4 linked regions of the Homo sapiens genome follow. The protein of the gene in region 3 purifies or fractionates together with the protein of the main gene of each other region. This does not show direct contact. Each region holds a gene or a part of one and is shown on either strand. Other genes may lie near its edges.

The links.
Region 1: the proteins of MED24 (region 3) and MED9 purify together in Homo sapiens (affinity purification with mass spectrometry; 5 studies listed by BioGRID and IntAct, with this or other methods). This does not show direct contact.
Region 2: the proteins of MED24 (region 3) and CDK19 purify together in Homo sapiens (affinity purification with mass spectrometry; 8 studies listed by BioGRID and IntAct, with this or other methods). This does not show direct contact.
Region 4: the proteins of MED24 (region 3) and CDK8 purify together in Homo sapiens (affinity purification with mass spectrometry; 15 studies listed by BioGRID and IntAct, with this or other methods). This does not show direct contact.

The regions. Positions count from the first base shown.
Region 1 is NC_000017.11:17,479,998-17,487,030, reverse strand, and holds part of MED9 (mediator of RNA polymerase II transcription subunit 9), read right to left. Parts: intron 1-7,033.
Region 2 is NC_000006.12:110,616,458-110,623,490, reverse strand, and holds part of CDK19 (cyclin-dependent kinase 19), read left to right. Parts: intron 1-12; coding exon of another isoform or gene 13-103; exon of another isoform or gene 104-122; intron 123-128; coding exon 129-201; intron 202-578; coding exon 579-676; intron 677-1,324; coding exon 1,325-1,403; intron 1,404-2,120; coding exon 2,121-2,387; intron 2,388-7,033.
Region 3 is NC_000017.11:40,018,584-40,023,421, forward strand, and holds the end of MED24 (mediator of RNA polymerase II transcription subunit 24), read right to left. Parts: intron 4,813-4,838; coding exon 4,548-4,812; intron 4,244-4,547; coding exon 4,062-4,243; intron 3,902-4,061; coding exon 3,811-3,901; intron 3,472-3,810; coding exon 3,372-3,471; intron 1,771-3,371; coding exon 1,690-1,770; intron 1,351-1,689; coding exon 1,202-1,350; intron 1,063-1,201; coding exon 946-1,062; 3' UTR 521-945; downstream 1-520. UniProt on the Homo sapiens protein: Component of the Mediator complex, a coactivator involved in the regulated transcription of nearly all RNA polymerase II-dependent genes.
Region 4 is NC_000013.11:26,397,100-26,404,132, forward strand, and holds part of CDK8 (cyclin-dependent kinase 8), read left to right. Parts: intron 1-53; coding exon 54-126; intron 127-3,353; coding exon 3,354-3,451; intron 3,452-4,169; coding exon 4,170-4,248; intron 4,249-4,366; coding exon 4,367-4,525; intron 4,526-6,856; coding exon 6,857-6,982; 3' UTR 6,983-7,033.

The sequences.
Region 1 (7,033 bases), about 23 Mb from region 3:
GTGTTTACAAACCTTGAGCTAGATACAGAGTGCCGATTGGTGTATTTACAATCCCTGAGCTAGACATAAAGGTTCTCCACGTCCCCACCAGAGCAGCTAGATACAGAGTGTAGATTGGTGCACTCACAAACCTTGAGCTAAACACAGGGTGCTGACTGGTGTATTTACAATCCCTGAGCTAGACATAAAGACTCTCCACGTCCCCACCAGACTCAGGAGCCCCGCTGGCTTCACCTAGTGGATCCCGCACCGGGGCTGCAGGTGGAGCTGCCTACCAGTCCTGCACGTACGCTTGCTTTCCTCAGCCCTTGGGTGGCTGATGGGACTGGGCGCCCTGGAGCAGGGGGTGGTGCTCGTCAGGGAGGCTGGGGCCGCACAGGAGCCCATGGAGTGGGTGGGAGGCTCAGGCATGGCGGGCTGCAGGTCCCGAGCCCTGCTGCGCGGGAAGGCAGCTAAGGCCTGGCGAGAAATCGAGCTTAGCGCCGGTGGGCTGGCACTGCTGGGGGACCCAGTACACCCTCCGCAGCTGCTGGCCCGGGTGCTAAGTCCCTCATTGCACGGGGCCAGCAGAGCTGGCCGGCTGCTCCGAGTGCGGGGCTTGCCAAGCCCACGCCCAGCCGGAACTCCAGCTGGCCCGCAAGCGCCGCACGCAGCCCTGGTTCCCGCTCGCGCCTCTCCCTCCACACCTCCCTGCAAGCTGAGAGAGTGGGCTCCAGCCTTGGCCAGCCCAGAAAGGGGCTCCCACAGTGCAGTGGTGGGCTGAAGGGCTCCTCAAGTGCTGCCAAAGTGGGAGCCCAGGCAGAGGAGGTGCCGAGAGCAAGTGAGGGCTCTGAGGACTGCCAGCACGCTGTCACCTCTCACTTGTGCAAGTATTTTGGTAAGATCATTTTCTAAAAGTAGGGATTCTGGGTCAAAGGTTATATATATTTAAATTTTTGACAGATATTACCAAAATGCCCTCCAAAAAAAAAACTGTACTGATGTAGATTATCTGTAGCCACGGAGGACACACTTCTCCATCCCGCCCTGGATGATACTGGCTACTACTTACCTATCAACTGTGTTTCTCTGCTCCAGTTCTGCCAAGACCTATGAGGCCTTCCGGAGAGGGAGGCCTTGAACTCACACCCTTGCTTTCATCTGCTAACAGCATTACATGTAAAAAATATTCTTTTTAGCAAAGAGTGACAAAAGGTGCTGCTGCTAAACGGAGTATGAAAATCACTGCACTACAAAATGCCCAGAACGTGTTCATCCACTCCCGAACCCTCGACACGGGGACCACCTCCCCAGTCAGCCTTCCTTCCTGTACTTGAGTTTCCTCCCTCCACAGTTACCAAGTCATTCCTGCCTGGAGTCTGGCAGATGGCAAATATCCAGCATAGACTTGCTGTCAGCAGGGGACGGGGGGAGGGTGCAGTCCCACCTACACACTCTACTGGCCACGCTAGGACCCCCAGGCTTGCACCTGTGTGCCCCCTTCTTCCAGCCACCATCCTGCCAGCTCCATCTCCTCTAGACCAGCCACCTCCCATTGCCACTGCCTTCCTGTGGACCCAGGTCCTCCCCTCTTCTGAAACACTTCTGCCCCACCTACCTTTAGAAACCCAAGTCTGAGCAGGTCACTATGCTGCTTAAAAATCCCAGATGGCGGCCGGTGGCTCACGCCTGTAATCCCAGCACTTTGGGAGGCTGAAGTCAGCAGATCACTTGAGGCCAGCCCCGTCTCTACTAAAAATACAAAAAAAAAATTTTTTTTTGTATTTTTACAAAGGCGTGGTGGCGTGTGCCTGTAGACAGAGACGAAACCCTGTCTCTACTAAAAATACAATTTTTTTTTGTTTTGTTTTTTACAAAGGCATGGTGGCGTGTGCCTGTAGTCCCAGCTACTTGGGAGGCTGAGGCACGGAAATCAAGTGATTCAAGTGAACCTGGGAGCCAGAGATTGCAGTGAGCCAAGACACGCCACTGTACTCCAGCCTGGGCGACAGAGTGAGACTCCATTTCAAAAATAAAAAATAAAATAAAATAATTCCAGATGGCCTCCTACCCACAGATAACACCTTTCAGGCAAATTCAAACTGTGAAGGAGACCCCCCCAGTGCCACCACAAGTGCTTCCAGCCTTCCTAGGCAAAGCTTCCCACCCTTCCCAGGACCCACGTAAATGCTTGCCTGGCATTTCTCACGCCCACTAAGGAAGTGCTGACTCGCGAAGGCCTGCCTTCGTGGGGCTTGCCTCTGCTGGGGCCCACCTTCTGGTTATAAGTCATACTGAGTGGATGGAAATGACATGGCAGAGGAGTGAAGAGGCTTTTAGGCAGACTGGAAACACCTCATCTGAGCAGTCTATGAACACCCCCTATCTGTGGCTGCTCATCCTGCTCCCTGGGGTGTGGCTGAGGGAGAAGAAAGTGAACGGCAGAGGCCTGCAGTAACTGCATGCGGACTATCCCCGGGAAGCCAGTGTGGGCACTTAGCGGGGGCCGCTTCCTGCACAACCCGGGAACGGGTCTCAGCTGGCATGGAAGGCCAGGGCAGATTAAAATAGATACTTGAGTGGGAAGAAGACAGTCAATAACACCCTGTTCCCACAAAAGAGGTCTGGCTGGGGCTCTGAGGTCTTGCTGACCTGCTGAAGCGGCCAGGCCAAGCTGGAGGGGCCAGACAGCGTGCTCATCACTTGAGCCCCATCTGTGGTGGCAAGGACGGCTCCCCTCTACCTACCTAGCAGCCTTAGACCTTGTAAAGAATTAAAACATTGAATTTAAAAAATGTTTTTAAAGTACCCAATGTCGACAGATTACTCTTACAAAGTGAGCCAAAACCATCACGCAAGGCAGCAACAACTGTAATTCAGAAGGCCTAGGCTGAGCTACTTCATTCCAAACTCAGATTCAAATTTGTTAAGTTTGAAGGAAAAAATAATAATTTTCCCCAATCTAACAGACCCCATTTCATTACTCCTTTATGATGCATTTTTAAAATGTAGCATCTATATATATCAAGAAAGTCTCAAAGTTGGGATTTATAATATTTCTTATAGGCATGAAAATGGGATTTCTTTTCCCTTTCCTCATTCTTTTTTTTTTTTTTGAGATGGAGTCTCGCTCTGTCGCCAGGCTGGAGTGCAATGGTGCGATCGTGGCTCACTGCAACCTCCGCCTCCCGGGTTCAAGCGATTCTCCTGCCTCAGCCTCCCTAGTAGCTGGGATTACAGGCGTGCACCACCACATCCAGCTAATTTTTGTATTTTTAGCAGAGACAGGGTTTCACCGTGTTGGCCAGGATGGTCTCGATCTCCTGACCTCGTGATCCACCCGCCTCGGCCTCCCAAAGTGCTGGGATTACAGGTGTGAGCCACCGTGCCCAGCCTCCCTTTCCTCATTCTTTAAAAATAACATAAATGTGTAGTTTAATTTTTCATTCAACTGCGGGAAAGACACTAGAAGAGATGAAAGTGCTATGGGTTCCAACTCCAAGCAGGGCTGTCCCAGCCAGAGCACTCCCAGAACCAGGTGGGTCCCTGGGGGTACAGGAGAGGCTCTGGTTCACAGGGCTCTGTGCAGCATTTCTGTGGGCACTTCTAGTGGAGGGGCTGGAGGGTCTGCCAGCCTGGAGGACTCCGCCCACCCAACAGCACCTGCAGCAAGAGGACCCTCTGTGGGCTTTGTGTTGGGTTATTCAGGCAGACAATCTGAAAATGGTCTGCAGAGATCCCTGAGTAAAGGCCTAAGTTTGGGCTCAATTTGAGAAGAATGGAGAACAAAGAAAAATTAGCCAAATAACATTCACAAGATAAAATAAGCATAAAGGCAAAGAGACTAATTAAATGCTGATTATAATACTCAAAAGCGAGGCTCAACGACCTGGCCAATGAGTAGTATCAACAGGCTTGGAAGTAAAGAAGCAGATTAAAGACGAAATGTTCCATTAACAAAAGCATCATGATCTAGCATCAGGCAGGCTGCTAGAAAACTCCACGGGAAAGGAAGGGCCAGGGAAATACTGACAAGAAAGAGGAAGGGTGAAAAATTAACCTTAAAAGATAATTAAATGTACCATGAAGATTTAAGAACTAAAATAGTTTGGTGCTGGAGAAGGAGAGAATGTCCATAAGTAGATCAGAAAACATGTGGGAATTCAGTGCATGGTAAAGGTGGCACTGCAAGCAGGGAAAATAACAAATATTCAAAAACAGCAGTGGGAAGATGTGGCTAACCGAGGCCCCCTTATTCTTCCCACCAAAATAAATTCCAGGAGCCTCAAAGAATTACAAGTAAAAAATGGAACCATGAAAGTTCTAGAAAAAAGAGATCAATACCTATAATTTTAGAGTGGGAAAGCCTTTCTAAGTAGGACCAAAACTCAGAAGCCATAAGGGAAAGGCCTAACAAATCTGACTACATGAAATTATATGCATCTGAATGAAAAACAAATAGAAAAACCATGACTATGAACAAAGTCAAAAGAAAAGCAACAACCTGGAGGAAGTATTTACAGTACATTTGACACACATTATTTCCTTTCTGTACATAAAAAAATCTAACAGAGAAATGGACAGTTTATAGGGAAAAATAAAAGTGACATATAAAATCGCCTATGAAGGGATGCTTTACCTAACTTAATGAAAGATCAATATATCATTTCTGACCTATGAGATTTGCCAAAGTTAAAAGTTTAATGGTGATGGCAGGTGATGGGGAAAGACACAAAAACTGTTGGTGGAAGCATAGATCAGGGCATTCTTTGCTCATAGTGACCCAAACAGATTCACATATCCCATTGCTAGAAATTTACCCCCACAGAGACTACCAAGAGTTCACCAAGATAGCATGGGCAAAGATGCTTGCTGCAGTGCTGATTCCAACAGCAAAATGCAGAAACAATGACGGTGTCCTTGAGCAAGAAACTGTTTACATAAACGACAGCACGTTCATAAAGTGGAATATTACACAGCTTTGCAAGGGAGCTGGGAGGAGTGAAGGGAGAGGCCCTGTTTCCATTTCATATCCATGGGTACTTGTAGAATCCGTCTACAACTTTAATTTTTGTTTAATGCTTTCTGGGTGGCAGATTTATAGGCCATTTTAGGTTAACTGAAGCAGTCTAGTCTACAAGGACTGAATTTTGGAAAAGAGTTAGCTAAAAAGACGTAGTGCTCTAAATTTAGCATAACTATCACTATAAAAAATGTTTGTACCCTATGCCCCAGCAATTCTACTGCTGGGATTTATCTGATCATAAACTTACTCCTACACAAAGATGCTAACCCCAGCACTGTGCTGGTAATAGCAAGAATAAGAAAAACAGCTAGAAGACCATCAACAGAAAACCAGTTCCATCAGTTATGCTGCATCCACAAGATGCAATTTTCTGCAGCTGCCTTAATGAGGTAGATCTTTATGTGCAGTATGGAAAGGTGGCCAAAAGAGACTAATCAGTGAAAAAAGTCAAGTACGACGTGATCTCAATTTGTATAAATTTTTGAAATGACATTCATATGTAATTCCCAGAAGGAACTTAGGAAAGTATTAACAGCAGTTACTACAGGTGAGGGGACTTGGGGGAAGGAACACATTTTCCATTTTACGTTTCTCTGTACTTCTAAACTTGCAGTTGTTACTTTTATTAAATAATTTTTCAAAAACTCTGAATTCTTTATGAGAACAAGAAAGGCTAAATTCACTACTTCAGATTTTACCTCCTTACTCACCCCTGTGCAAGAAGTAAACAAAGAATAAAAGGATCATTGGGGAAGTTATAGGAAAGGAAGGGACCCAGGGCCAGAGAGCGCCACCTGGGTGGACCGGACATGGTCCCAGCCCTCATCTCCACCCGCCAGTACTGTGTCTTGACTGGCTTCCAGCCTGACAGTTTCACTAGCTCCCCATCCCTCAGAAGACACCTGCACTCTGTTTCCTGGCTCTTCCCTCCTCCCCAGCCACCTCTTCCTGCCTTGGATGTATGCTCAACACCACCAAGCTAGAAGCTGACTCCCATGAGTAGATGCTATTTCTTGGCTTCGTGTCCTTACATGTTTTTCCTATACCAACATTCCTCCTGCCTCCCTTTCCTAATTGAAGACTCATTGTTGGCATCACTCTTACCAAGCCTTCTGACTCCCCCAGGCTTCACGAGGTCTCCTCTCCCTTCCTCCTCTGCCCTTATTCCTCCCTCATTTGCCTATAAACTCAAAGACACGCCTATACTGAAGGTTTGCAGGTTGGATCCTAGCCTCTTCTCATGTTTACAGCTGCAGAACCACTCCATTCCTTTGTGGCTACTGTTTCCTCCACGTGGCTTTTTCTGCTCTTCTGTCTTGTCTTTCTCTTTTTTCCTCTCTCTCTCTGTCTCCTCTCTTTCTTTCTTTCTTCTTTGAGACAGAGTCTATGTCACCCAGGCTGAAGTGTAGCAGTGCGATCATGGCTCACCGTAGCCTCAGCTCCCTGGGTTCAAGCTATCCTCCCATCTCAGCCTGCCCAGGTGCTGGGCTTGCAGACAGACATGAGGCACCGCGCCTGACCCGTGTCTTTCTTACCAGGGGGTTTCTTCCTATGCTTAGTGACCTTGGCCATCCACTCATATATTTAAGAATAAAACACTAAAAGGCTTAGTGGAAGCTCTGCAAATGAGTGATGCTTGTTCATTTTCTCAGAATTAATTGACTAGGCTTTTTTTTTTTCCAATGTCTTTTCTCTTAATTGGTCACGCACCATAGAGAGGGCACTTCCACTCTCTTTGGCTGCCAATCTAGAAGCCAGGTGGGGGAAGGCTCGGGTGGTGTCTCTCTTCAGACTGTGAACTTTCTCTTAATCCCTCTTTTCAGTATGGCTCCCCCTACCTACCCCTGCAGTGTGCCTGGTGTCCCACAGTCAAGGTACTCTCTGGCTTATTCCTTCCTAAGAATAAATCTCGGGAGAGTAACCTTTTAACCATCTGCCAAGTTGGAAGAAGGGTAGTCACCCGGCCGCTTGGAGGGGATGGGAGGTGGGACAGGACTGTGGGGACCTGCTTCTTAAACAGACTTCCAA
Region 2 (7,033 bases), on a different chromosome or scaffold from region 3:
CTTCTTATTCAGAAAAAACAATGACTTAAACACATACCTTATAGGAAAGCCAATCCTGGAGCTTATCATTAAGAAATATCAATTGGATGAGTGTTCCCAGTGATGTGTGACTGTGCGTGTCCTTGCAGGTATGCCAACAGTAGCCTCATAAAGTACATGGAGAAACACAAGGTCAAGCCTGACAGCAAAGTGTTCCTCTTGGTAGGTGCTTCTCTCCCAGACTAAAATCTGATTCTCAGCACAAATCTCGCCTTCTATTTACTCAGCTATTCCTCCTCTTTAGAAACAAAAGAAATTAGTGGATGCTGGGGTAAAATTAAATATTTTTTTTGTTGAGATGTCACCCTGTCTTTCAGCCTTCACTTTAAATGATTTATCAGCAGAAAATGAACTTTATAAGGGCTTTAATGCTGATGATTTCTGCCAATTTCACATAAAAGTATGTAGTATGCATAATCTGCAGTGAGCTACACCAAATGTATTTTATATTAATCCTGTTACACAGTAATACAAAAGACAAGGTGTTGACTTGTAAATAACCTTTTCATGTGCTGTACATTTCCTGTGTGTCACTCTAGCTTCAGAAACTCCTGACCATGGATCCAACCAAGAGAATTACCTCGGAGCAAGCTCTGCAGGATCCCTATTTTCAGGAGGACCCTTTGCCAACATTAGAGTATGTATCCTGTCTTTTCTGTGTCCTTTGCTCCAGGCTGAGGAGGCTGCATGGTGGTTGAAAGCAAGGGAAGCACTTGCTACTGAAGTATTTAACTTTTTCAATGATACCACCTAAAGACTGCTCAAGAGCAAGCTTCCACATTTTGAAACAGGCAAAGCTGCAGAGAGGGATGAATGAAAACAAGTATTTTAGGAACGACCATTTGTCAGTTTTACAGATGAAAACTAAAGCTGATAACAGATAAGACCTTTACAGACCAATTGGCCAGATCAGAAATTCAGCCAAACCAGTAGGCAACAGAAGTTAATCTGTCTTTCAGAGCATGTCCACTGCACTACAAAACCTCTCTACTCCTTCATCCTTCTTAACCCCAAGTATAGACTTTGTGTTTTCATCTATAAGAGGTGTAGTTTTTCTTGTTAAGGCAAATACAAATTAAGTTATTTTTGGCGCTAATGAAGTTAGTATAGAGAAACTTCTGTGTCCTATATGTCAACTAGCTAGCAGCAGTCAAGATTTGAACACTAGCCACAGATGAAGAGTAGGAAATAAGTGAAGAAAAACAAATTGGAATTTTAAATTAACAAGGTAATGATATTACAGATTTTAGATCATGATATGTTTTTTCTTTTTAATGATTTTTAGTGTATTTGCCGGCTGCCAGATTCCATACCCCAAACGAGAATTCCTTAATGAAGATGATCCTGAAGAAAAAGGTGACAAGGTATAAACTGCACGGTATACTTTCACTTCCAAAGAGCAAGGGAGGCAAAAAGATAGTTTAGGTATCGTTCCATAATTCCTATACATTTAACCACCTTTTCTAATATTTAATTAAATTTGAATGTATCTTATTTTCTGTGGAAGTTTGGGGATTGTAAAGGTACCTTGAAGTTTGAAGTATGACCAGCTCACAGATACCTGAGCTTCCGGTGTGTGTTACAGCCAGTTCTACTCCCGGATTCCCACTTCTTGCTCTTTCTGTTTGTTTGGTGTCACTACCACCCCTTTATGCAGGCTGGCTTTTGCTAGCATCACTCTGTTCTTTCGTCTTAACTGGATATATTGGCTCACTCTCCAGACCGCTCTGCCTTTCCAGAATCACGATTGAAAAGATTTCTTCTAGCTGTTTTAATGAGCTATAAGAAATGTATTTCTAATGTGCCTGTGGCCTTCAGTGAGATGTCTGTGACTGATTTGGAGGATCACTGTGCAGTCTAAATGAACTTCAGGGAAAGAGTCCTGTTTGGGGCTCAGCGCCTTGCCCTTTGGGAACACTGTGTTCCCTGGCTGCTCCATTCTCCAGTCCTCCCCATCACTCTAGTGTCCCACATAGATTGCTCCCCCAGGTTGGTCAGCAGCCACATGTGCATATCAAATAATTAAAGAAAGCTCCTGTTAATTTGGTTTCATACCAAGCTTGCTTTTTTCCCCTTAAAAGAATCAGCAACAGCAGCAGAACCAGCATCAGCAGCCCACAGCCCCTCCACAGCAGGCAGCAGCCCCTCCACAGGCGCCCCCACCACAGCAGAACAGCACCCAGACCAACGGGACCGCAGGTGGGGCTGGGGCCGGGGTCGGGGGCACCGGAGCAGGGTTGCAGCACAGCCAGGACTCCAGCCTGAACCAGGTGCCTCCAAACAAGAAGCCACGGCTAGGGCCTTCAGGCGCAAACTCAGGTGGACCTGTGATGCCCTCGGATTATCAGGTACTCCCTGAATGTCTAATGTTCATATGCTTTATGAAGTGGGGAAAAGATTTATCCTAGATCCTTTTAGAGTTAAGTAACACTTAACTCTTACATTTGACTGTGCAATCCTGTTTCTAGGGCATTCTATGAAGAGGAAGATTTTCATCATATTTCATGTAATTGTAAGATATCTCGTATTCTGACTTGTTTATCCTGACACCCGAGGAGAGGAAGGTAGGGAGGCCAGTGCCCCCATCCTTAAAGAAAATTTCATCATTTTACCCTTATAGCTGCCTTAGCAGTTCTGGTGTATCAGAAAAAGATACGTAGATACGCAGTTGAAAAGGGAAGGGGAGTGGTGTCTTACTTTGGACAAAATTAATTGCATTCTTTAGAAAGATATGCTCTTTCTGGGAGGAAGTAGCTACATAGATAAAGAAGAGAAGGGGGCTAAGACTGAGGCTTTTCTGAAATAACTGTTAAGTCTCATTAGAAATAATTTTGAGACTAGAAAATACTTTTTGTTATTCAGATAAAAAGAGAACACCAATTGCAGTGCTAATTCAGGAAATTAAAGGAGCTAAGTCTAAGGATTGGTATTTGGAGAGAGGTAAAAATACCCATTGTGATAACCATAGGAAATTTTGAAAAAAAAATTTTTTTTCAAGGTAGTAACAAGTTAAGAAACCATCTAGGAAGAAGGGAAAACTTAAGTTTTTTGTTTGTTTGTTTTTTTGTTTGTTTTAAGTTTAGAACCACAGTCCCTCCGGGAACTCTTGCAGATGAGTGCATAGGATAGAGATAATAGAAAACAAAACCTCTGGCAAGGGAACCATAAACTCACTGATAAGGAACTGCAATAAAGAGAAACTTTAACAAGAAAGACATAACAAATAGCTGCATAAACTGCCTTCACATTTTGAATAGCTCAACAAACTAATGTGTTTCCACACAACTACTCTGAAAAACTTCTCTTCAGAATATCCCTGCAAGCAGAAGAGTACATAATACTTCCACTTGGTTCCAATTAAACAAATTTAGGCTTCAGTTTGATCTACTAAAAACAGCTTGCTAGCTGGGTAGTAGCATGAGCATATTTGAATTTTGTTATAAAATCTGTTTCCCCTCCATTATATGAGCAACAAATGCTTACTATATACTGGTTCATCTTTGTGTGTCTGATTGAATTATATTAACCTGTGTTAAAAAATAATAATAATTTGCCTAAACACTTGTTAAAGTTGGTAAGGCAGACTTTATTCAAGGCGGGGCCATGTTAGTGCATAAAGGGACCACTGCAACAGGGGCTGGCAGTTGGGGAGGAAGACTGGACTCAATTCAGACTCCTACATGACAAGTGGAGAGGTATAGCCAAAGAGCAGGGTGGGGATCAGTGGATGGAAAGTTACCAAGAGGAAACATCCAGGATAAAAGGTCTCTGGCTAAACTGACTGCATAGTATTAGGCTGAAGGGAGGCCTGGGTAATAAGCTTTTAAAGGTGGGGGATTTTTGCCAAGCCAACTTAGCAAGATTCTTGCTCTAACAGGATTCTCCAAGGACAGAGGAAAGCCCAAGGTCAGGCCTAGTCAAGCAGAAGACTCACAGAGCTCCCTCCAACACGACCCTGTAAAACTTCCCTCCAGCCTCTTTGCAGACAACACCTCCTCTACTGTGCTGCCCCAGGCAACAACATGTTTTCATACCTTCTGTAATAAACCTGCCTTTCTTTACCCAAAACCATCTTGGTTAAAACCTTGACTGCCTGAGAGCAGCCTGACTGCAGTTTTTGTCAAAGGAAAGAGTCTTTGTCACCCAATTGTAGTCAATTATAGACAGATTACTGTATTTCTTTTTTTCCCCAAATTCAAACATTCTTTGAAATGCTTTTCTATGTCCATATTGTTCTGTTGACTTAAAAATAAACCTTTCATAGCTGAGTCCTGATGTCTGTGGAAAAAAATAATAAACCTTCCAACATATCTATTAAATGAATAGATACAGCTATTTAGTTGGAGAGACTGGCATGAGGGGCAGTCAGGTGTCCCATTACACCGAACTTGCAACTCATACACCATCTAGGGGCCAAGGGAAAAACTTTCCTTTCACTCTCTGAAAGTTCGCTGAAAAATCAACTCACAAAAGGCAGGTTAATTGGAGAAAATGTCATGGGTGTGACTAGCTAGGGCCAGTGTCTCAGGCAGTCAAGGTTTTTACTAAGAGTTCTGGGTAAAGAAAGGCAGATTTATTACAGAATGTATGAAAACATGTTGTTGCAACAGACAGCATAGCAGAGGGAGGGGCTGTCTGCAAAGAGCAGGGGCTGGAAGGAAGTTTTACAGGGTCTTGCGGGAGGGAGCTATGTGCCAAATGAGGTCATTGTGCCCACCAGTTGTTTGTGACTAGCAGTGTCTCAGAACAATTGTTCATTGTTTTTCCCCACCTGGAGCCCCTTCCTCCTTGTTGCTTACTTATCAGGACAGAAAGGCATACAACTTTGATACCAGTGGGCTGAGGGAGGTCCCCAGATGCTGGTGGGACCTCAACCCCACCCTGTGTCCAGGCTCCTAACACCATCGGGAGAAGGAATTAAAGGATGAGTCAAAAATAGCAAAAGTATGGAGATTTATTGCAGAGGGAAAAGTACACAACTCAAGAAAGGGGAGTGTGGGTATACGCAAGAGAGAATCTGGCTGGGGACAGTGGCTCATGCCTGTAATCCCAACACTTTGGGAGGCTGAGGCGGGTGGATCACCTGAGGTCAGGAGTTCAAGACCATCCTGGCCAACATGGCAAAACCTCGTCTCTACTAAAAATATAAAAATTAGCTGGTTGTGGTGGTGCAAGCCTGTAATCCCAACTACTTGGGAGGCTGAGGCAGGATAATTGCTTGAACCTGGGAGGCAGAGGTGCAGTGAGCCGAGATCGCGCCACTGCACTCCAGCCTGGGTGACAGAGTGAGACTCCATCTGAAAAAAAATAAATGAATAGAGAGTCATGCAGTCTGGTTTGGGTTTCTATCTTTATGGGTTTCTTTAACCAAAGGGTGGAATATTCATGAAAATTCCTGGAAAAAGGGGGAGATTTCTTGGAACTGTGGTGCCACCCATTTTTATGCCAAATATGGATGTTCTTGGAACTGTCATGGTGCTGGTGAGTGTGTGATTTAGAATGTTAATGAGCATATAATGATGTCCTAGGTTTTTAAGCAGAAATTCAAAGTGTGTTTCATGTAGTCTTTTTTTTTTTTTTTTTTTTTTTTTTTTTGAGACAGAGTCTCACTGTGTCACCCAGGCTGGAGTGCGGTGACGTGATCTTGGCTCACTACAACCTCCACCTCCTGGGTTCAAGTGATTCTCATGCCTCAGCCTCCCAAGTAGCTGAGACTACAGGCATGTATCACCACTCCCGGCTAATTTGTGTGTGTGTGTGTGTGTGTGTGTGTGTGTGTGTGTGTGTGTATATATATATAAATAATTTTATTATTATTATTATTTTTTTAAGTAAAGACAGGGTTTCGCCATGTTGGTCAGGCTGGTCTCAAACTCCTGACCTCAAGTCATCCACCTTCCTTGGCCTCCTAAAGTGTTGGGACTACAGGCGTGAGCCACTGTGCCCGGCCAGAAATTGTCCATTTTTATGGTTTAGGGTCAACAAAGTGTAGACAGCCATGTAGAAACATGATTGGACAGAAGGGGTATGATCTGATGCTAATAGACTGAGGGGGAAACCCAACATGGCCTGTCTAGGTTCCTGTTGGTCTCTCTAAGCGTGCATTCCTGCCTCTGGGTGTGGGGCAGGACCCCCTCTGGGACAGGAGTCTCATGACCTACAGTCAGACAGGATATGCCAGATCATTTCTTTATGTCCAGTTTTTACACAGAAAGGTAGGGGGAAGTTAGAGTAATATTTTTAGGTTTCACAGCTGGTGTTGGGGAAGTGGGGTTCTGGTTTCTATGGCTTGCCTTAGGGAAGGGGAATTCTAGTTTCTATGGCTGGCTCTGAGGAGAATGGGACTGTGAGACAAGAGGGCACAAAAAGGTCAGAGAAAAACTTTTGCTCCTGAGGCCTTCATTTTGGGGTATTGTTTTCTGTGCCCCAACAGTTCCATTAGTAGAGTTTCAAGGCTTTTGAGCTGCTTCATCAATGTATTGTAAGCAAGTACAATTAGCGCTTTGAAAAGCGGGACATTGGCTTATTTTCTGTCTAAAAAACCCTTTGTCATTAAAAAAGCTATGTTACAGCACATTAGATTCTTACATGTTTACATTATACTTTATGGCAAAATTGCCCCAAATAACGTATGAGTTGAAAGAACATTTTTCATAATAAACTTCAAAATAAAACACGTAATTAAAATTTGGAATTTTTAAAGACTTCTGTAACCAATGTGACTATTCAGTTGTGCAACTTAGGAAGGGGCAAAACTAAGTTTTGTTTTGTTTTTTTTTTTTTGAGATGGAGTCTCCCTCTGTCGCCCAGGCTAGAGTGCAGTGGCGCCAATCTTGACTCACTACAACTTCTGACTCCTGGGTTCAAGCGATTCTCCTGCCTCAGCCTCCCGAGTAGCTGGAACTACAGGGACCCACCACCATGCCTGGCTAATTTTTGTATTTTTAGTAGAGATGGGGTTTCACCATGTTGGCCAGACTGGTCTTGAACTCCT
Region 3 (4,838 bases):
GAAAGCAGGGTCAGAAGTTCCCACTGCCAGCTCGGAGTCATCCATCTAGGGGCTCAGAGATGTGTGAGGCAGGCAAGGAAGGGTTAAAGAAAGGTCCGGCCCCTCATCCCCCCGCCTCCCATCCCCCAGTCCTTTTTTGGAGGCAACAGATCAAATCCCAGGCTAGTCAGAGTGTGGGTGGTGTTGGACCAGGTTCGGGAGACAGCAGAGCAGGCCACCCTGCCCCAGCACTGTGGGGCCCTGAGCCAAAGCCTCTCCCCTTTCAGGGTACAGCTGGCTTTGGGGGAGGGGGCAGCAGGCCAGCCAACTTGGCTCCAAGGAAGGGAAGCTGCTTTCCCCTGGCCCTTCCCCAGCTGAGCAAGCCCACATAGGACCCTGAGCCCTGCCGCCTCTGCTCCTCTTCCTCCTCCTCCTCACCACAGGAGTGAGCCGTTCCCTGGCCACAGCACAGGAGTCCAGGGAGAGGACACTATGCCCTGCCCCGGGTGGCACCAATACCAACAGCACACACAGTCACAAAGGGAGCCACGAGGAGCTTTATTTATACATGAACGAAGGTAGATTTCCCTCACATATTACAAAATACACACAAACACACACACACACACACACACACACACATACACACTTTGCATCTAGAAAGTTCCTCAGAGGTAAGACTACTCCTGGGCTGGGGCGGGCGCACACAGGGGTGACCACTGGGCTTGTGGTCCAGGCTGCTCACTCTCCTCAGGTGCCAGCAGATGGAGAGGAAATTTTGAAAGAAGAAACCGGGAGACATCCTGGAGGTCAGGAGTCAGGAGCGGGGAACTGGAAGCCGCTAGAGGCTCTTGCACCATGTGGAGCGGATGTGAGGCACGATGCCTCATCTTTCCTCACTGCTTCCCTTGGAGGCGCCTGGGGCTGCGCCAGTCCCCAGCCCCCACTGCGGCCATGCCAAGCCCCTCAGAGTGCAGCAATGGCTTTAGCAGCCACCTGGCGGCCCAGGGGCAGGCTGAGGTCCGTGATGGCCAGAACCACCTTGGGGCTGGACATGGCTGACACCTTCACCAGTTCCGACACCTGCCACGGACAGACAGATGCTGCTTGCGGGACGGCTGGTGGTGGGTGTGCTGTCCCAGGGGGAAGGAGGCCCCTCCCTGCTCTAAGGGCTGCCCCGAGGCCCCAGCACCAGCAGGAGAGCCGGGAAGGTGGTACTCACGGTGGTGAAGGGCATGAACTGCAGGACGCTGCCACGGCCACCCTGCTCCAGGCAGTCCACACACTCCTCCATGAACCACTGCACGAACTGGGTGTGGGGGCCAGCGGTGCGAGACCCCAGGATGGAGGAGATGAGCAGGAACAGGTTGGCTGTAGAGAGTGGGGGGAGAGTGACAGGAGGGAGTTCCATGAGAGTGGGTGAGGTCACACTCTGGGAGAAGGTGGGACTGAAAAGGGAAAAGAAACACATGCTGAGCATGTCCCCAAAATGGGGTGTCAGAGAGAGAAAATATAAAAGGCAATTGGGGAGGGGAGGAGGGGGAACTAGACAGGAGCCTGGGGGCCAGGACAGCCAACAATGAGGGGCATGGAGAGGGAAGGGAGGGGCACCGCAAGGCCCCTTCCAGCTGACAAGGTCTCCCAGCCTCCATGAGAAGAGAGACTCGTCCAGCTTAGCCCCAGGTTCGGCAGCAGGGGTGGGGAACTCACCCAGGACTCGGTTCAGAGGGTCCCGCATGTTGACCGTGTGGAGCTGAGAGGCTGAGAGGGAGCTGCTCATGGATCGGTCTGCTGTGGGACGGAGCAGATGGAGCGCTGGGAAACAGCCTGCCGAGTGCAAAAGTGGTGCTCCCCGGGGATGCCCCAACCCGACCTTCACCCATCGGAGGTAACTGGTACATGGAGAGCCCAGAGAAGACCCTGAGATCAAGAGCACAAAGGGAGGCCAGGTACAGTGGCTCACACCTGTAATCCCAGCATTTTGGGAGGCCGAGGCAGGAGGATCGCTTGAGTCCAGGAGTTTGAGACCAGCCTTGGCAACTAGCGAGACCTCATCTCTACAAAAAATACAAAAATTAGCTGGGTGTGGTGCCAACGCCTGTAGTCCCAGCTCCTCGGGAGGCTGAGGCAGACTGCTTGAGCCTAGGAGAACAAGGCTGCAGTGAGCCGAGATGGTGCCACTGCACTCCAGCCTGAGCAACAGAGCAAAACCGTGTCTCAGAAAAACAGGCTGGGCGTGGTGGCTCACGCCTGTAATCCCAGCACTTTGGGAGGCCAAGGCGGGTGGATCATCTGAGTTCAGGAGTTCGAGACCAGCCTGACCAATATGGTGAAACCCCGTCTCTACTAAAAATACAAAAATTAGCCAGGCGTTGTGGCAGGCGCCTGTAGTCCCAGAGACTCAGGAGGCTGAGACAGGAAAATTGCTTAAACCCAGGAGGCGGAGGTTGCAGTAAGCTGAGATCGTGCGACTGCACTCCAGCCTGGGCAACAGAGGGAGACTCCAACTCAAACAAACAAACAAACAAACAAACAAAAAACAAAACAAAAAAAGGGCACAGAGGGACCTCAGATACAGAGATCCCAATGGAATGAGAGAGAAAAACTAACATGTGGTGAGCACACAGGGCCAGGGGCCGATCTTGGTACTTCCTAAGCTGCTTACTCCTCACAACACCCCATTTACAGATGAGGAGACCCAGACGGGGGCTGGCTCAGTCGCTAGCTAAAGGTCACAGCACTTGTAGCTGGCAAACCTAGCATCTTTCTTCTGATCAAGTGTATAGTTGGTCCCCTAGTTCCTAAAAGGCTTCAGAGAAAAGTTCAGGCTCAGGAGAAATCTCTGGAAACAGGAAAAATGCCACAGAAGGAACCCTTGGCAGTAAGCCTGGCAGGGAGGAGGGGACAGTGAAAAGGATGACCTCCAGGGAAGTGGTTGGTGGGGGGTGTGCTCTTTAGGCAGGAAGGTGGGGAGTAGCCCCATGCCCCAGCCCGGGCCTCTCCGGGCATGTTTTGGGGGAAGGAAGGAAGGAAGGTCAGAGCTGGTGAGTCAATGGCACAGGCTGTGCCTGAGGCAGTGAACTCACTCACTTGGGTAGCTTGTCATCCCCTCAACCCTGGGGTAAGGGAGGGGCAGGAGGGCTGTGGGGGAACAACTGTGGGCTGGGCTGGACCTGGGCAGAGGAGCTTCAACCCTCAGGGAGTGAGAACAGCAACCTCTTCTCCAGGGGCAGGACACAGAGCACCCCCTTGGGGGCTAGAACAGCAGGTCCCTGCCACACCCTCTCTGACCAGCTGCAAAGATGCCTGCAGCTGGGGCAGCGGCAGAGTGGCAGCATCGGGGAGTGAATTCCCAGGAAAAGGAGCGGCGCGCGGCCAGCCCACACACTCACTGGGGCTCGAAAGGATGTTGGCATCGTCCTCATTAGAGCTCAGCAGTCGCATCAACTTCGAAGGCTGCACATCGTCCAGGGGGAAGAGGCTGATATAATCCTAGAGGGAGTGAAAGTCACTGTTATACACCCCTAAACCCCCCAGTTTCCAGCTGTCAGGGAAAAGAGCTTGAGCTCCGATTTGAGCGAGGTCAGCATGGCTAGCAGGGCCTCAGCCCCTCTCTGCTCAACCCCTCCCACAATCTGACAGGCCCCTTGTGCCCATGGGCAAGCTGGGGCCACACAAATCACCCATGCAGATTCCTGACCAATCATGCCCAGGCACAGCTGCCCCAAGGGCAGGGGCCACAACTGCTTCCCTTTGCCTGGGGAATCCTTAGGAAATGCTGTAACAAACCGGTGAACAAGTGAAGCCGGCGAGGGCAGCTGGGGGGCCTACCTCAATGTCTTCGCGGTGTCTCTTCTTCTGGCGGGTGGACGCCTGTCCCTTGTGGGAGGAGTAGGAACTGAGGGCACACCACACGGCCAGCCTGGCAAAGGGTTCCAGAAAAAGGGGGACAGTGAGAGGTGCCCCAGGAGCTTTCTGTGTCTGACTGGGCTCCCCAAAGCCCAGTCTCCCAGGGTGGCACCAGGCGAGGGGTGCTTGACCCTGGGTGGCCGGAGCAGGGCAAGCTCTGAAGAGAATCTTACTTGGCAAGAGCAGTGCCCGGGGGGTCCATGAGGCTGTGCCACTTGGAGGAGTCAGTGAGCAGGCCAGGTAGGATGTGGCCCAGCAGGACCAGGGTCACTTGCTGCATGTCCAGGCAGAAGATGGAGTAGAGCAGCTCCACTGCCCGCAGCGTGTGCTCCTTCCGCGTCTCCTTCAGCAGCTCCTAGTGCGCAGGAAAGGGGGCAGTTCAGGAGCCAGGGGCCCGGGATCTGGGGCTCCTACACCCTGCCACCCCAGCATGGCTGTCCAGTAAGGCCCGCAGAGGGGGCCCCAGATGTTGCTCCGCCCCTCAGGCTGAATCCCAGTCTCTGGCCAGAGCTCCCCAAGGAGGCAACTCTGAGGCGAGGCATTCCGGGGAGGCCACCTGGCTCACGGCAGCCTCTCAGGGAAGCCTGGCAGACCAGGCCAGGTGTGGGGAGCCAGGGGACAGGACCCATGTCGGCCCACAGCCACTCCAGCCCAAGTACCTTAATCAGGTTGTTGCAGAACCAGTAGACGCCGCCCATGTGCAGCAGGGTGTCAAAGATGTGGATGGAGCGGCTGTCCACCCAGCCCTTCTCCAGCACCTTGGCAAAAATGTCCGTCAGCACCTCTTTGATGGGCCGCTTGGGGGGCAGCAGGTTCCAGTAGGGCATTGTGTCCACCCCGGTGGAGGGAAACTTGATCTGCGTGGCTGTCTGCTGCAGCACGTCGGCACACATGCGCTCCAGGATCGAGTTCATGATCACCACCCTGGGGGAGGGCCGAGAGAACCTGAG
Region 4 (7,033 bases), on a different chromosome or scaffold from region 3:
TGTACAATTAACCTCAAGTCTAATATAGCTATTTCATAGTATTTCTCTTTCAGGTATACCAACTGCAGCCTTATCAAGTATATGGAAAAACATAAAGTTAAACCAGATAGTAAAGCATTCCACTTGGTAAGCATTGGTTAACAGTATTAATGAAATGCATTTTTTCCTTAATTGACTAGCCCAACTGAGGCTTTTTTGGATCAATTTATGTGGTTACTTAGCTAGCACTCAGAGTGCTTTCATGGTAAATGCAGAGATCTTGTTAGTGCATACCAATAAAGACAATAAACTATTTGCTCTTCCAGACTCATATCATGGTTTGACAGACTAATGTTTGGTCACATTAGATTTTCTAAAGATAGCGATGGTAACAAATCTGTCAAAACATTTATAAAATTACATGTATTGTTTTTCGTCTGTTTAAGATTTTAAAAGTTCCAGAGAAGTATCAAGAAGAAAGTACTTCTCACCATTGATAAATAGATTGTTTTGTATTTCAGCTCTTTGAAAGACTGTTTACAAAGTTCTTAATTTCCAAAATACCTCTTATAACCTTAAATGTTAACAGTCATTCAGCGATTATATGTGCTATTTGATTTTTCTGGAAGAATGTGATAGATGCCATATTTATCAGTGTGTAATGGAAAAATGATTTAACCTAGAATCTAATTGAATCCGTGCACTAACAAGGTAATTTGTGATGAAATTATATACAGCCATTACCAACTTTGTTTACAATAAAATTTCCATTGTTACAGCGTAATAATTAATAATGTTTTTTGTTTTAGAAAAAGGTTTATAACACATAGAAGGGGAGTTTGGGGAAGCAGGTTGTATTTTGCTTGGCTTGAAATTCTTTTAATCCTTATTCCTAAGTTCTTAAATGAGAATTCTTTCACCTTGAAGAGGTTAACCTTTCCTTTATTGCAACCAGGCCATTTGGCAAACATTTCTTCTGTTCTTCCTTTGTTTCTCCTTTTTCTTCGCTTTCTACTGCTTCTCCTTCTGTATTTTCTACTTACTATTATATCAGTTCACATTTTATATCATGTATTTCATATCTTAACAGCAATTTAAAAAGTCATTCTTAACCTGTCATATTACCACACAATATATTATCCAGATAATGGTTTATTATAATGTACTTACAGTAGGACCCAAATTAGAGGTCTAAGTTAGATCCTTCGAAATTATGGACTTACTGATTCTAATAAAATAATGATAGTGGCAGAAGATTAGAAGTCATGACTTAGGGGAATTATTATTCTCCTTGATTCCCTGCTACTCATTATAGTCTAGGATGACTCTGCCTACCATCACCACTAAAACTCTAGAGATATACCTTCCTTGTAGCTTATGTGCTTGTTTTTACCAGGGTGACCCATCTTAATTGGAGGTAATCTTGAGTAGTCTCTTAGGAAAGCCCTATTATAATTCCATTAAAACTGTTGGGTATTTTCAATAGCAAATTCAGGCCTTTCCTTTCAACCCTAAAAATAAAATTGTGCTTTCTCTGAAATATCAGATCATTAAAATTAAATTTTAATCTCACCATTCTAGCGTTTTATTTGCATCTTAAAATATGTCGTGTCGGCCTGGCGTGGTAGCTCACGCCTGTGATCCCAGCACTTTGGGAGGCCGAGGCGGGCGGATCACAAGGTCAGGAGATTGAGACCATCCTGGCCAATGTGGTGAAACTCCTAAAAATACAAAAAGTAGCTGAGTGTGGTGGTACATGCCTGTAGTCCCAGCTACTCGGGAGGTTGAGGCAGGAGAATCGCTTGAACCCAGGAGGTGGAGGTTGCAGTGAGCCTAGATCGTGCCACTGCACTCTAGCCTGGCAACAAAGCAAGACTCTATCTCAAAAAAAAAAAAAAATGTCTTTTTATCCTGTAAAATTTGTCATCTTTCTTTAAGTCTTTTTTGTTGGAGACACAGTTTCATTGTGTCACCAGGCTAGAGTGCAGTGGTGTGATCTTGGCTCACTGCAACCTCTGCCTCCCAGGTTCAAGCCATTCTCATGCCTCAGCCTCCCGAGTACCTGGGATTACAGGCGCCTGCCACCACACCCAGCTAATTTTTGTATTATTAGTAGAGATGGGGTTTCACCATGTTGACCAGGCTGGTCTCGAACTCCTGACCTCAGGTGATCCATCCACCTTGGCCTCCCAAAGTGCTGGGATTACAGGTGTGAGCCACCACACCTGGCCTCTCTTTTAAGTCTTAATGTGTCTGTTAGTTCATTGGTTTTCAAAATGCAGTCTCAGTCCAGCAGCATGGTATCATGTAGGGCCATGTTGGAAATGCAGGCTTTTGGCTCCTACTCACATCTACCAATCAGAAACTCTGTGAGGAGGGCCCAGCAGTCTGTTTTAAGAAGTTCTCCAGGTGATTCTCATGCATCCTAAAGTCCGAAAGCCACTGCATTAGATCAGAGTATAAACTAAGAGACCACATATTAGAATCCAATTGAATGAACTATGTCTTAACTAAAAAATACTGAATCTTCACATTAGTGTGGCATTTATAGTAATAATAACAATAAGAGCAAGCACTTACATAGTACTTTCTTTATGCTAGGCACCATTATAATTGCTCTCCATATATTAACTCATTTAATCCTGAAAACAACCTGTGATAATAGTCACCATTTTTAATCTCCATTTGACAAATGAGGTAACAAAAATATTAAGGTAACTTATCCAATGTCACGCAGCTAATAAATGTTGAGTCAGGATTTGAATGGAGCAGTCGACTTTCAGAGTCTCTGCTCATCACACAGCTCTGTACTTTGTAAGTTGTGTATCACCATTTTTATTTAGACTAGAACAGCACTGCACAGTACCACTTTCTGTGATGATCTGCACAGTGCAGTAGCGTAGCCACTAGCCACATTTGGCTCTTGAAATGTGCCTGGTGTAATGGGGAGATTGACTTTTTTATTTAATTCAGTTTTGATTAACTTGGATCTAAATATGAATCACTGCATGTGTTAGTGTATTATATGTGTAACAACAGCTTTTTTATCTTAATAGAAAAAGAATAGAAAATACACAAATTTTGGTCCTGTTCTAAATTGGATAAAGCCATTTAGATAATGGGGGTGGGGATCCATTTGTTTAGTCAGAGAACATAAGCAAGAGTAAAACAAGTGAGATTATGAAACTGGAATGACTAAAGTGTGAATTACTACATTAAATTTAACAACTAGGAGTTTTGTTGTTAATTTGGGGGAATAAATATTTTCCAAATTGTGATGTTATTCACCAAAAAATATATATCGTCTTCACATATGTGCTGAAAGATAACTGTGAGAAGCAATACCGTCATGTTTGTATGATTTGTGATTTCAGCTTCAGAAGCTGCTTACCATGGACCCAATAAAGCGAATTACCTCAGAACAGGCTATGCAGGACCCCTATTTCTTAGAAGACCCACTTCCTACATCAGAGTAAGTGGCCTAGTTGGTTAACTCATCAGCATGATGGAAGTTTTGGAGTATGCTTTCTTCTGCTTGTCAGCTCTTAAGTTGCTCCTCCTCTTATATGGGAACCCAAGGAAATCCTTTATGACAAGCAAAAATGAGCTTTGCTGATTAAAGTGTCATTTAGGGGCTTTCCAGTTAAGAGGCATTCCTGTTCATCTCTTGCTTTATGAAATGCTGATCACATTAGTTTCAGTAGTGATCCAGCTATTCAGTGACAGGTTGGTTATGCGTGCTGTAGCTCCTTACTGTCTGCAGTTACAGTTTCATGTTCCAAAATTGCAAATATTCCCAAATGTGTTCCCTATACCATCTTTTGTTTTGTTAATAAATGTAGTAGGAAGGGTAAAACAAAAATTACCTTTGAATGGTGACACATACTTCAGCTAGAATCTATATTTGGTCTGTATTAATAGAAGAGTAATGCTGGGATAAAAGAAGAAAGCTGAATCATACTCGATGATTATTGATCATTTGTATACAGCTCAAGCCCTCAAGTAGCCTGCTGTAATATTACTAGTTACAAAGAAAAGATTCGTTTTGTCACAGTTACATGAAAGGTGCTTATATTTGCAAATATGGAGACAAAGTTCATCTTAAAAGATTAAAATGAGAATCTCCTAAATGAAGCATTTGGAATATTGATTAGTATACCAGAAATGGTTTTTCTTTTTCTTATGATCAGCGTTTTTGCCGGTTGTCAAATCCCTTACCCAAAACGAGAATTTTTAACGGAAGAAGAACCTGATGACAAAGGAGACAAAGTAAGTATTAAAGTACTGTTAGCAGCTTCTTGTTTCGTGAATGCCTCCATAACATTTTCCATTGTGGGTATATTTTGTTCTCCCTCTGAGCTGAACTTTTTCTGTTTAACCAATTGAGAAGAACCAGCAGCAGCAGCAGGGCAATAACCACACTAATGGAACTGGCCACCCAGGGAATCAAGACAGCAGTCACACACAGGGACCCCCGTTGAAGAAAGTGAGAGTTGTTCCTCCTACCACTACCTCAGGTGGACTTATCATGACCTCAGACTATCAGGTATTCCAAGTTTATTTTGTATTGACTGCATGTCAGTGTTTACATATGGGTTTATGATCGTGGGAAAATGTGATTTAATTGAGAAATACTGACGTCTGTATACCCAGGGAAATACATTAACATGAAATGTTACTGGCATGGAAAAGTACTGACAGTGGTATGGTAGCAAGGGTTTAGACTTTTGAACCAGACTTGGAATGATCAAATACAAATTATGCCATTTATTAACTGTGTGACCTTGGACAAGTAGGATAATATCTCCTGGCGTTTTTTCATCTGTAAAATGAAACTAGTAAAACCTAACTTGCAGCTGTTGTCAGATTAGACATGAAGTGGCTTGACACCTAGCTTATGGTAGGAGCTTGATAGCTATTGTTTTGGAACAATGTTTCACAGTGATTAAGAACATAGGCTTTCAGATCCCAGTCTGGCCACTTACTTCTCTGTATCCTTGAGTAAGTGATTCAGATGTTCTCAGTTTCCATTTGTAGACTGGATAATGATCAATGTGAAGCTGTAGTAAGGATTAAATGAGATAACTCTGGGAGGTTAAGTGTTGCAGCCATTTCAGGAAACTGAGGCTTGTAGAGGTTAAATAACTTTCACATGGATCCCCAGCAAGCTGTAGATGCAGGACTCATATTTGATCTGACCACAAAGGCTGTTATGTTGCCTGCTTAGGGATCCTATCATGGCATTGTCAGTTACGTTGTGGAAAGACCCTCTTTGAAAATTGTATACCACCTCCTTTTCTCTTCTGCTTATTCTAACCATATTCCCAACTACACAAGGGTTCAGTGTGGGAAGGATACTGAAAATCTGACCAATTAGAATTATTTACACACAAAAAAAAAGAGAGAGAGAAAGAGATGTTATTAAACTGATAAGGTCCCGAGTGCTCGTTACTGTACTTTCAGAATTAGGTATTAACTCTTTCTTTTGGTTAGGGGAGAAGTCCAGCCCATCACACCATGGAAATCACTGTTGTGTGAGTAGTAATTCTCTTCCAGTTAGCTAAACAAGGACACCAAGGGCAGACAGCTGTGGGAGTTGTTGGTTCCAGTATCTTTTTCTTCCTTTCCGGATGGGAAGAGTGCATCTCTCTTGGCCCACAAATGTGTTTGCACACTAAGGTGATGGCATCCTTAGAAGGAAGCAGAGCAGTGCTCTGACCTTCGCTTCTGGAACCGAGAAAATGATGCCATGCTGCTTTGTTGGTGTGATTGTTGTTGGTTTTTTGTGGATGAATTTTAAAATAGTATTTGTGACTATCATTTCATGTGTCCACTCTTTTTAAAAATGTTACCTTTTCTAGGATTGGCAGAATTTGGAATTATATGTCTTATTAAATATGCTTTGAAAGACAGAAGTAATAAGTTCTGGTTAATCTTTTATAGTGTTTGTCTTGGGAGCAAATAGTATGAGAGAGAGGTGTGAGAATGGGAATAATAATCTAACATATCAAAATTAGAGAACCCCAAACCATCACATTCTTTCTCTTTGTGCCATTTTAGAATTGAGAATACCGTCCTTCTTACTGTGGTTATATTTTTACTTTTGTATATAAACTTGTAGCAGAAAATAAGATTCAGTAGCTTAAAGGGGCCAGGCACTGTGGCTCATGCCCGTAATCCCAGTGGTTTAGAAGGCTGAGGGGAAGGATCACTTGAGGCCTGGAGTTTGAAATCAACCTGGGCAACATAGCAAGACTCTGTTCCTTCAAAAAAAATTTTTAAAAATTAGCTGAGCATGGAGGTGCATGCCTATAATCCTAGCAATGATTATACCATTACACTCCAGCCTGGATGATAGAGTGACACCCTGTCTCAAAAGAAAAAAAAAATAGTTTAAAGGGCATAAAAATGTATTAATGCCAAAGAAATGGATTCTGTGATACCTTCTCCTATCATACTCACTTTTACTCTTCAGTCATGTGTGTGGGGGTGAGTTTTCTACTGAAGAAAGCATGTAAATAAGCTTTGAATTTTTTATGTATACATCATTAAGTTTCTGGGTAAACATCTCAAGCAAATTTACCAAGTAGATACAAAACAGCATAAAAAGGGGTTACTCCTGTAGAAAAAAATGTATTTGCACAGCATAGTAATAAGCCTAGGCTTAATATTATTTACTAGCAATATTTCTGACCTTCCTCAAGAGAAGAGGATGTTAAAATATTTGGGGTTTTTGTCTTTAATTATAAAGTTAGTACATAGCACAAAACCTATACATCCTTTCTTCCTTGAAACATAATGACACTTCAGTCACATATTGGGATTGAGCTTCCCCTAGAAGCACCTGAATCACACTTTTCCCTCATCTCCTTTCCAGCGTTCCAATCCACATGCTGCCTATCCCAACCCTGGACCAAGCACATCACAGCCGCAGAGCAGCATGGGATACTCAGCTACCTCCCAGCAGCCTCCACAGTACTCACATCAGACACATCGGTACTGAGCTGCATCGGAATCTTGTCCATGCACTGTTGCGAATGCTGCAGGGCTGACT